Linked DNA regions of Homo sapiens: region 1 is linked to region 2. Evidence: fine-mapped expression QTL. A gene starts in region 2. The other region holds a variant in brackets. All regions are shown on one strand. Distances are from middle to middle.

Region 1 (5,389 bases), 56 kb after region 2:
GAAAAGTTCAGGACTAATTTTAACAAAATTTGACGTTATGTTTATTATGGTCTGACTGAAACTAAAGATTCCAAAATGCAAATAATCCCTCAGGGCAGCTGAAACTAAAGCACAACATGTATGACTACTCTTAGAAGAGGCGTGCCATAAGCAACAAGACACAATGGAAGGGAATAAACAAGCAGTGGTTTCTGAGGGTCAGGGACTCCAAGTGGCAGTTAATTTGAATTGACTGCTTCCCACTTGGGTAACTCTAGGTATATACTCCAGAGGAATTAGTAGCAGGAAATTCATTCTTTTTTAATATAAATTTCTTTTGATAACAATGTATTCGTTATGAGGACATGAGCATGGGAAAGAAAAGCTAAGATGTTAAACAGATGAAAATATTTACATAACTTCAAATAGTTGCAAATACAAAGCCAAGGAGAAGTAGATTGAATTACATTTTCTAAAGAAACTGTCGGACCCAGCCACTGAGCTTTCTCATCATTCTCCATGGTCCCCAAACCTCTGCACCCTCCTGTTCCATCCTCTCCCCCAACCTGGATAAGCAATGTAAAAGCAATTTCAGTGTTTAAGTTGAACTGTGGTTAGTGTAGCTGAGTCACAGAATAAACTGGAAAGAGCCATTCAAGGAAAAAGAAAAACACGTACTATAATTGAAGACAAACATCACTCAGTCTATAACGCATTTTCAGGAATTCATGTATGTGTTTTTATATATAAGATATATAAATATAATATGCATAAATATAGTCACTGGGCAATCAGCAGAAAGTATTTAAGGTAACTTATATGCATTGCCAAAATCTGCGATATATCATATTTTATTTAGTGCATCCAAATACCCCAATTATTACTAAATGGAAGCAAGCTGATAAGCTGCAAGCTATCTCTAGAAAATTGGGCATGAGACTATGTTAGAAATCTTCCAGGAATAGAAGTAAACAGAAAACAACTAAGATTAGTTGCTTGCATATTTTTAGTTAATATTAAATTAAAAATGTACCGGCTGGGCACGGTGGCTCACGCCTGTAATCCCAGCACTTTGGGAGGCCGAGGCGGGCGGATCACGAGGTCAGGAGATCGAGACCATCTTGGCTAACACGGTGAAACCCCGTCTCTACTAAAAATACAAAAAATTAGCCGGGCGCGGTGGCGGGCGCCTGTAGTCCCAGCTACTCGGGAGGCTGAGGCAGGAGAATGGCGTGAACCTGGGAGGCGGAGCTTGCAGTGAGCCGAGATTGTGCCGCTGCAATCCGGCCTGGGCTAAAGAGCGGGACTCCGTCTCAAAAAAAAAAAAAAATGTACCATGTGGTTTTCAAACCTTTGATTTAAGATAATAAACAAAATTTTTGTTTTAAATGTGAAGAGTACCTCCTCCGAAGAATTCCTAAAATAAAACAGAATGCTTAATTACATAAATAACTGTGATAAAGCTGTGTTTCATTGTTATATTTGTCTGGCAATAAATGAGGGATTTCAGTCTTTCATTTGACATCTTTTAGAAGTACTAAATTTACCAAATAAAGTAATCAATCATTTTTATTTTCTTATATACTTTCAGAAAGTAAACAAACTGGTGGTTTTATTAACATTTATTAACCTTATTGTCATGTTACAGATTTAATATTAAATATATTGCTTATGTGTTGTGAAGATTTGAAAAATATATTCTAAATGGAAAGAAATAGGCTATTTCTTGAAAAACAGAAGAAATACAAAACTAAAAAATATAAATGTTCAGTTCTACTAGGATTTTAATATATACCCCAAAAAGCATGTGGTGGAAACTTAGTACCTGATGCAACAGTGTTGGGAGATGGGACCTAATGGGAGGTGTTATGGGAGGTGTGGGACTCTGTCATAGCAGCACAAAACAAACTGAGACAACTTGCCATAAAATGTAAGCATTTTTTTTCAGAGAGGGAGAGAAAACAAAACAAAACAGAACAAAACATTTTTCTCCTTCAATCAGAGTTTTAAAAAAAAATTAGTGGCCGGGTGTGGTGGTTCACGCCTGTAATCCCAGCACTTTGGGAGTCCGAGGCGGGTGGATCACGAGGTCAGGAGATTGAGACCATCCTGGCCAACATGGTGAAACCCTGTCTCTACTAAAAATACAAAAATTAGCTGGTCATGGTGGTGCGTGCTTGTAATCCCTACTTGGGAGGCTGAGGCAGGAGAAACGCTTGAACCCGGGAGGTGGAGGCTGCAGTGAGCTGAGATTGCACCACTGCACTCCAACCTGGCGATAGAGTGAGACTCTGTCTCAAAAAAGAAAAAAAAAATTAGTGACTTGGGGCTGACAATGGGAAGCATAACAGCGACAATGGCAGATTTAGTTGTTTGATATTGTTTCTGTAAGACTTAACACAGCATGTGTGAGATATTGTCCTGGCCCTCAGCTCTACTGCACTCTAAGGCACATGTAGGCATGCAGTGGTAGACAGTTCTGGTGCCA[T/C]GTGATCGAAGATTTAAAATGCCAGGATACAGAGATTGCCCATAATTTGGTAAGCAGTGAAGAACAAATGAAAATTATAGGGAAAAGAGGGGCTTATGCTTAGGAAAATAAATTCTAATGAAAGACTCCAAATAATTTATCTAGTGTGAAAAACTGGTAACTAAATGAATTTGAAATGAAGGCTTTGAAAGACAGCGTCTAACTCAGACATGGACTAATAATCATGTAATCGATAAAGGACCTCACAAATGGGATCCTAACAGGTATGTCAGAGATTTTTTAGATGCAAGTAAAATCTTACGTAGAGGAAAGCTGAGGTTGTGGGAAACCTGGTCAGTAGTTTTCAAACATTTTTATTTTAATAGTAAGTATTTAAATCAAAAAATAACAATAAAAAAGAAATGAATATATGCAATATCTTGTTAAGACCAGTGAGAAACATCTCACTGGGTGCTTCTCATAGAGACAAGGGCACCCAACAAGTTTCAGTATGGCCCCACAGCTTTGGCTTCTCTGCATTTTTGTTTGTTTGTGTTTTTTTTAAGGAGACCAGGCCTCAATCTGTCACCAAGGCTGGAGTGCAGAGACATGATCATAGCTCACTGCAACCTGGAACTCATGGGCTCAAGCAATTCTCCCGCCTCAGACTCCCGAGTAGCTGGGACTATAGGCATGTGCCATCACACCCAGCTAATTTCTCTGCATAACTTTAGGGCACTGCCCAACTCAAGTAATGAGGGCTAAAAAGATGACTTCTCCCGGTACTCTATATACCCTTGTCAATGATAAACCAGGCTGGCCTTTTCAAAGATGCATCCTTAGATCTTTGCAAATTTCCAAATTACTCAATACCACCAAAGTATATAATTATTCTCCGCTACTCTAATATAGAATATTATAATTTTATCAGAGCAACTACACATACTATTAGTCAAAAACTACAAAAACATCATGAAATGGTAATGCTAGGTAATTCTTTAGGCTCACTTGTTACCTACAATACTTTTACCTTCACATCAACCTTGCATAATAATGTAACTGTTTAGTCTTTTTTTAATGCACGGATTTTTTTGGTTCAATAAATAAATTTTTCCCAGCTTTACTGAGGTATAGTTGGCAAGTAGAAATTGCATATATTAAGGGTGTATAATATGATGTTGTGATATATGTATATATTGTAAAATGGTTACCATATCAACCTAATAAACATATCTATTGCGTCACAGTTATCTCTTTGTGTGTACGATGCAAATATTTGAGATCTTCTCTCTTAGCAAATTTTAAGTATACAATGCATTATTATTAATTATAGTCACCGTGCCATACATTAGGGCTCCAGAACTTGCTAATCTTATAGCTGCAAGTTTATACTCTTTAACCAACATCTTCCCATTTCTCCTTTCCCCTAACCACTGGTAACCAACCTTCTACTCTCTGTTTCCATGAATGTGACTTTTTTAGATTTCACATATAAGTGAGATTATGCAGTGCTTGTCTTTCCGTGTGTGGCTTACTATAATGTCTTCCAGGTTCCTCAATGCTGTCATAAATGTCAGAATTTCCTTTTTTTAAAGGGTAAATAATATCCATTGTGTGTGTGTGTGTGTTTTGTGTGTGTGTGTGGATCACATTTTCTTTATTAATTGATCAGTTGATGGACACTTAGATTGATTCCATATCCTTGCTATTGTGAATAGTTCTGCAGTGAATGTGGTAGTGCAGCTATATCTTCAACATATCAATTTTATTTTTCTTTGGATATATATATTCAGTAGTGAGATTGCTGGATCATACAATAGTTCTATTTTTAATTTTTTGAAAAACCTCCATACTGTTTTCCATAATAGCTGTACTAATTACATTTCCACTAACTGTGTATGAGACTTTTCTTTTCTCTACACCCTAACCAACACTTGTTATCTTTCAATTTTTTGCTAATAGTCATCATAACAGGTGCGAGGTGGTATCTCATTGTGGTTTTGATTTGCATTTGCCTGATAATTTAAGATATTGAGCACCTTTTCATATACCTCTTGGTCATTTTTATGTCTTCTTTGGAAAAATGTACATTCAGATCTTTTGCCCACTTTAATTTTATTTTTAATTTTTAGCTTGTTTGTTTTTTTTTGAGAGGGTCTTGTCTGTCAGCCAGGCTTTAGTGTTGTGGTGTGTCACTGCAGCTTCAAATGCCTGGGCTCAAGCAATCTGCCTGCCTCAGCCTCCTGAGTAGCTAAGACTACAGGCACATAGCACCATGCCCAGATAATTTTTTTAACTTTTGGTAGATACAGGATCACACTATGTTGCCCAGGCTGGTTTTGAACTCTCAGCCTCAAGCAATCCTCCCTCCTCAGCCTCCTAAAATGTTTGCATTATGGGCATGAGACACTCTGCCCATTTTTAACTCAGGTTCTTTGTTTTTTCTGCTATTAAGTTGTGTGAGTTCCTCATATGTTTTGGATATTAATTCTTTTTATGGCTATGTGGCTTGCAAATATTTTCTCCCATTCCATAGGTTCCTTTTTCATTTTGTTGATTGTTTCCTATGCTGTGCAGAAACTCTCTAGTTTGATGTAATCCCATTCATTTATTTTTGCTTTTGTTGCCTGTGCTTTAGGTGGCATATCCAAGAAATCATTGTTAAGTCCAATGTCATGGAGCTTTTCACCTGTGTTTTCTTCTAGGAGTCTTAATAGTTTCAGATCTTATATTTAAATCTTTAATCCATCTTGAGTTGATTTTGTGTATGGTGTAAGATAAGGATCTGATTGATTGATTTTCTTGTTTTTGCATCAGCATATCCAGTTTTCCTAATACCATTTATTAACGAGACTATTCTTTCTCATCATTGTGTATTCTTGGAGTCTTTGTCAAAGATTAGTTGACCATATATTAGACAGAGTCTTTTGCATAGTCTTTTCT
Region 2 (5,389 bases):
TTAAAACAAGAATTAAATCAAAACATTCCAAGAGTTGTGTTCCATTCTGGAGCAGTATTTAAGACAGTAGTGAAAGACTTGGCCAAATATACAAAGATTCCAAGTACTATCTATGTGACTTATGAAAAAAATGAAAAAGAGAATGATAAAAGAAATCAAACTTAAGCCAAAATGGCATGGAAACAAAACAGTGGAAATCAGACTAACTTTTATTTAATCTGAAACATGTAACTATCCTCAAAAATGTTGAGTAGTCATGGAATCATAAATTTAAGAAGGTGCTTTAATACCCATCAAGTCCCACTTCTCTTACCCAGGAGGAATTTGGAACTCTTATCAAAATTGAGTGACTTTTCCAAATCCATATAACTAACAATGGGCAGAATCTGGGTCCTCTGGGGTCAATACTAATGTTCTTTTCATAATATCATTAGGCCCCAGCAATGCAAAACAAGTTCTGATTTCAACAAGCTGAATCCTCAATAAATTCAGCCCATGTTCACTTCATTTAATGGTTAAACTCTTCCCTTTGAAAAATTCCAAGCATTAACCACACTTGCATATACAGACATTATCAATTTCATAGCTGGGAAAGATAAAACTCAGCCAAGATAATTAGCTCAGAAATATAAGCACTTCCAGAAGGAAAAGAGCCAACTAGTTAGTTCCAAAATGACATTCAGAAAAACAGCATAAGATTACATTAGTTCCAAACATTAACCATCTCTTTTGAACCGACAGGATAAGCAGGATTCTACTTCTAGTATTCCAAAACACTGAGAACAAGTTCATGTTCAGCTTTTCTGTGACTATGATGAACTTAAGTATTTTAATTATACTTTACCTTCAACTTTTCAGACCAAAAAGTCAAAAATTAATCTTAAATTTAAAAAATGAAAATATGAGTTTTAGTCCAGACTGCCAAACTACTGTTACTTTAGAAAAATCACTGTCAATTTCTAGACCCCAGATTCTTTCTTCTGTAAAAATGGGGATGGAAGAGTGATTACTAGGCTTTGGTTTCTCCCAGTTCTGTTTTCCCTATCCTTGTCTAATTTCACTGATACAAAAGAAAAACAACTTTCTTAATACAAACCATATTATTCACTGAGGCTTAAAAAAAAAAACTTTAAAGAGATAGGTTATCTGGTAAAGTGCACCAGGAACTACATTATTTTGAAGGTCTTTGTTCTACATTCAGCTAAGTTTCTAAAAGTCATTCAAAAGCCAATCACCACACACATTAACTGAATGTTGGCAATATTTGGCCCTGAAAATATAAGACAAACTGAAGCTAAATTCCAGGACAGAAGCCTCTGCAAGTGAGGGTTTGAAATCTTGTATACGGTGAAGAAACTGACAATAATGAACTTCACCAGAGCCCCGTGATCTTGAAAAACAGCAAAGGTTAAGAAACCCCTTGCCCCCGTTTGTGTTCTGAGAAATTGGCTTACTGCAAAGAATCATCTTTCCTGTAGAACTTAGATAAGACTAAGGGTTGATCCATACCCCCCTACCCCTTGTTTACCTATAACAAGGCCATAACTAGACCCTTCTAATTCCCATCCTTTGCTTCGTAAATGACTTGCTGAAGTACCTGTCCCACAGATCAATCGGAACAAAATACTTATTAACCAAACTTTAAGATTCTCTTCTCTCGGGTACCTGAATTTTGTCCTTCCCTCAGTCTGAAACAACATATACAAACCTCTCCTAACAGCTCCTCCTCAGAATACATGGGCTCAGGGTAAAACATTATCTGGTTACTGCCGGATCATACCCATATTTTCATCCCAATTCCTGACATCTTATTTACCCCTACCAACAAAAGACAAACCCTTTCTGCCTAACCTTTAAGGTGCATGCAAATCTTACGGTCATTCTCCCTACTGCAACAGTTCCTTCAACCTTCCTCCACACCCCTGCAATATTCCTTTCGAATAAAGTCTGTCCTTACTAAACTCGGGTTTTTTATTTGACACCCTTTTCAATTATGAAATGGCTAAGTGTAAAGAATAAGGGGACTACCGTTTCTTTAAATGACAGGTGTTGATCTTATACAAGGAGACCCGTTGTGTCCACCTGGAGAGGCTAAAAGCATTTCTAAGATCTGAAGTTCTTGGCCACTGTTCCGCGGATGGAGAAGGGGGCGCAGAAGAGGTGACTGACCCGGCAAGGTCAACTCTGGGATCACCTGGCGCCACAGGCCATACACAGTAAATGGGCCATGAACAGGCAGGCTACCCAGTCCATACTCCCTGACAGATACGCCCCTGCCTCCGGCCCGCTAGTCTCCCAGACAGGTAGGCGTAATGCTGCTTCCTCAGGGGCTCAGACACCCTGAGATAGGTGGTGGGTCCTACCCAGCAGCTCATCCCAACGTCTCAACTCCATTCTGAGCAGAGCACCTGATGGCTCTTTTCACAGTACTGACCTCCCCGCCCTTTTCGCCCCACCGTTGTCACTCCTGCCCTCACAGAAGAACTCACCATGGCGCCTAGGATAGGTCGTGGACCAGACACCCTGGAGTTGCCGGGGCAGTCCCAAACCTCTTACCTCCCGGTCCTTGAGCCGAGAGACTCTCAAACAGCGAAAGAGAGGGTCTTCCGGCTCTGCCGGAAGTTGTGCGCGCGCGGGACAGGAAGTTCCTCCCTTCTCCAGAGCGCCGTCGACCCCACGCCACGCAGAGGTGAAGATACGCAGGACGTCCTCTAAAGCAACTTCCGTGGGTGCCAGGTTGTGGGCTGGGGGCGGTGCTGACCTTGAGAGAGCGGAGGAGGCGCAGGCGCAGCACAGGTACGTGGGCGGGCGGATCGTGGTGGCTGCGCTTGCGAGGACCCTGAGGTAGATTGGGTGGTTTCAACAGGAACGCATCCACTGTCTGAGAGGTGACGGAGGCACACGTTGGTGTGGGGAGCGGGAGGGGAGAGGGAGGGGGGCGGGTGGGGGGCGGGAGGGGGCCAGGGGTGGGAGTGAGGGTGCGCGATGGGAGTCGACTCCAGACCCAGGTGATTTAGAGAGAGTAAAGACCACCTTTGGCCGTCATTTTGTCTCAGCTTAACTGACGCCCTCTTGTTACCCTCTAGTTTTCCTGACTCGGTCCCTTATTAGCATATCCTCATTTCCACAGACCTGTCCGTCTGTTGCTTCTGTTCCCTGCCTTAGTGGGTACCGTAGCTCTACCCTCCTTCCGGGCAATGGAATCTCATAGTGAGAAGTTTCTTCACTATTCACAGGTGGCAATTGAAGCCGGAAGAACATCTACCAAGAGCAGAGAACCCAGGAAGAAAATTCTGCCTCTTTAATACGTTCCAATATGGACGTTTTCCATATAGATACCTATCTATATAGATAGATGCTCTGGGATCTGACGGTCCTGGACACCTGTATGGCTGTGTGCTGTGGTCTTTGCCTAGCCTGCGGTTCACTTTTGCTCTGGCCACCACCTCCCCTCATGTACAAACCGCGTCTCTGCTCTGCCAGTCTTGGCCCCCGTCAGGCAGCGGTTCACTCCCTCACCAGGGAAGTCTAGATAGATAGATATAGATAGATATCGATCGATAGATATAGATATATATATAGATAGATAGATAGGTAGATATATGGATAGATATAGATATTTGGATAGATATGTAGACGTCTATCTATAAATATATCGATATATCGGGGTTCTCAGCCATCCCAAAGAAGCTTGCACAGGGCCAGTTGCTTTATGTCAGGAAAAGGGACACAGACTGAGTGTATGAGGGTTTTTTTTTTCTATAGATGTATAGATATTTATATCAGATGCAAATAAGTGAAACTCTCATACAACTTTTAATTTTGTGTTTTTTCCAAACTCTATTCCATTCAACTTTTTCTGCCTTTTTATTTGATTATAATGAGACATCGTACTGGAGGCAGGCTTGAAATGGATATACAGAGCACTTTCAACCCAGAAATTTGTCTCACGACTTGGGGTCCTTACTTAAGTTGTAGCTGTTAGTAATTTCATCCATGAATTCACTTTGTGCCATAGTGTGATGTTTTGTTATGAAGTTGGAATTGGGAAGGGAAACTAGGAAGTTTTGGGAGAAGTTAAGAAGGTTGAGTAGGCAGGCGTTGTTATAGATATTAAATTTCACCCTGCTTATCAAAGTACCTGGAGCGTATGGTATCCAAGCTGTAAATGGCCCAAAGGAATCGGGGTTCTCAGCCATCCAAAAGAAGCATGCACAGGGCCAGTTATTTTATGTCAGGAAAGGGGACACAGACTGAGTGTATGAGGGTTTTTTTTTTTGTTTTTTTTTTTTAGTTTAAACTTGATTTTGTGAGGGGACGAACAGCGTGACAATTAAAAGAAGATCTGGGAATCGTAAGTACTGACAGAATACCTGGAGGGAAGGTGGGACTGGAGAATAGTTTGTGAAACAGATCCTGCTGAGGATGAATCCAGAACTTCCTGAAGGGTTCCGCTTCTGCTGTGTAGGGACAAGGTTGTAAATAGACAAGCCACAGGCACCTGCAAATGGTAAGTGTGGTAGAGAGGGGCTGGAATTGCCTGTTGGTGTATCTGTGGGAAGCAGCTGCTATCCTTGAGGAAGAAAAGATGGAGAAGGTAAGTGGCTATCAACCTGTCAGAGACAACACATTCTGTGAAGTTGTACTCTTTCATTTCTGACACTGTGGTTCTTAATATCTGTCCTAAACCTGGCAGTCATTGAGGTTCGCAAAGTATCTCCTTCTATGTGACAGTAAAACTGGAATTACTATCAGAATGGAATCCATTCCTGCTAGAGTAAAACCATGAAAAGAAATCGCAGTTTTGATTATCTGCTTATCATTTTTAATAGATCACAGAGTGCAGTGTTCCTTATTTGTTGTATGGCAAGTTGATGAATAACTCTTGATTAATATCTTTTAATGTTCTGTTTCACACAGTTCTCTCAATTACATGTGAAAAATCTGTTATATAAGTAATGCTATTTAATGATTAAAATGGATATATGTTTTAAGGTAGTGCCACCCAGTCTTTTTTTTTTGGTAGAATAATATTATTATCTATTGGTTGCCTGCCTTGAAGTACAGTAATTTCTCTGTTTCCATTATTTAAAATAGGTGAGTGTCTTTGACAAAGATACAAAGAAAGGGGACAGTTATGAAAGGGAAGAAAAGATAGATGGAGATGAAAAGAAATTCAGTAGTTTCAGCAAGGGAATTAGGAGCATAATCTTTGAGAAAAGTCTTGGTTGCTTACCATTCGGGCTTTGTGATGAGTTGAAATGTCCTGAATGAGAACTGTTCTCAAATGCTTTCAAGACCAACAAAAAGTACGATACCCACACTGACCTGGAACTCTTTAAACCATTAAGATATATCACTTTTTCGCAGTTCAGTCCATATTTTTTGC

Evidence for each region.
Region 1: its variant is fine-mapped to the expression of TMEM161B-DT in whole blood (INTERVAL, PIP 0.98).

The regions. Positions count from the first base shown.
Region 1 is chr5:88,322,386-88,327,774 of GRCh38, forward strand. The region is part of intron 2 of TMEM161B-DT (TMEM161B divergent transcript); the gene reads left to right. Among named protein-coding and RNA genes, the nearest start is that of TMEM161B-DT, 56 kb to the left of the region's middle. The variant T/C (reference allele first, on the strand shown) is at 2,468.
Region 2 is chr5:88,266,232-88,271,620 of GRCh38, forward strand. TMEM161B-DT (TMEM161B divergent transcript) reads left to right here and starts at 2,651. Exons shown (of 3, transcript NR_039995.1): 1 at 2,651-2,796; 2 at 4,295-4,354. TMEM161B (transmembrane protein 161B) reads right to left here and starts at 2,614. Exons shown (of 12, transcript NM_153354.5): 1 at 2,490-2,614. The coding sequence starts at 2,492. RefSeq lists enhancers at 2,401-2,900, 2,591-2,780.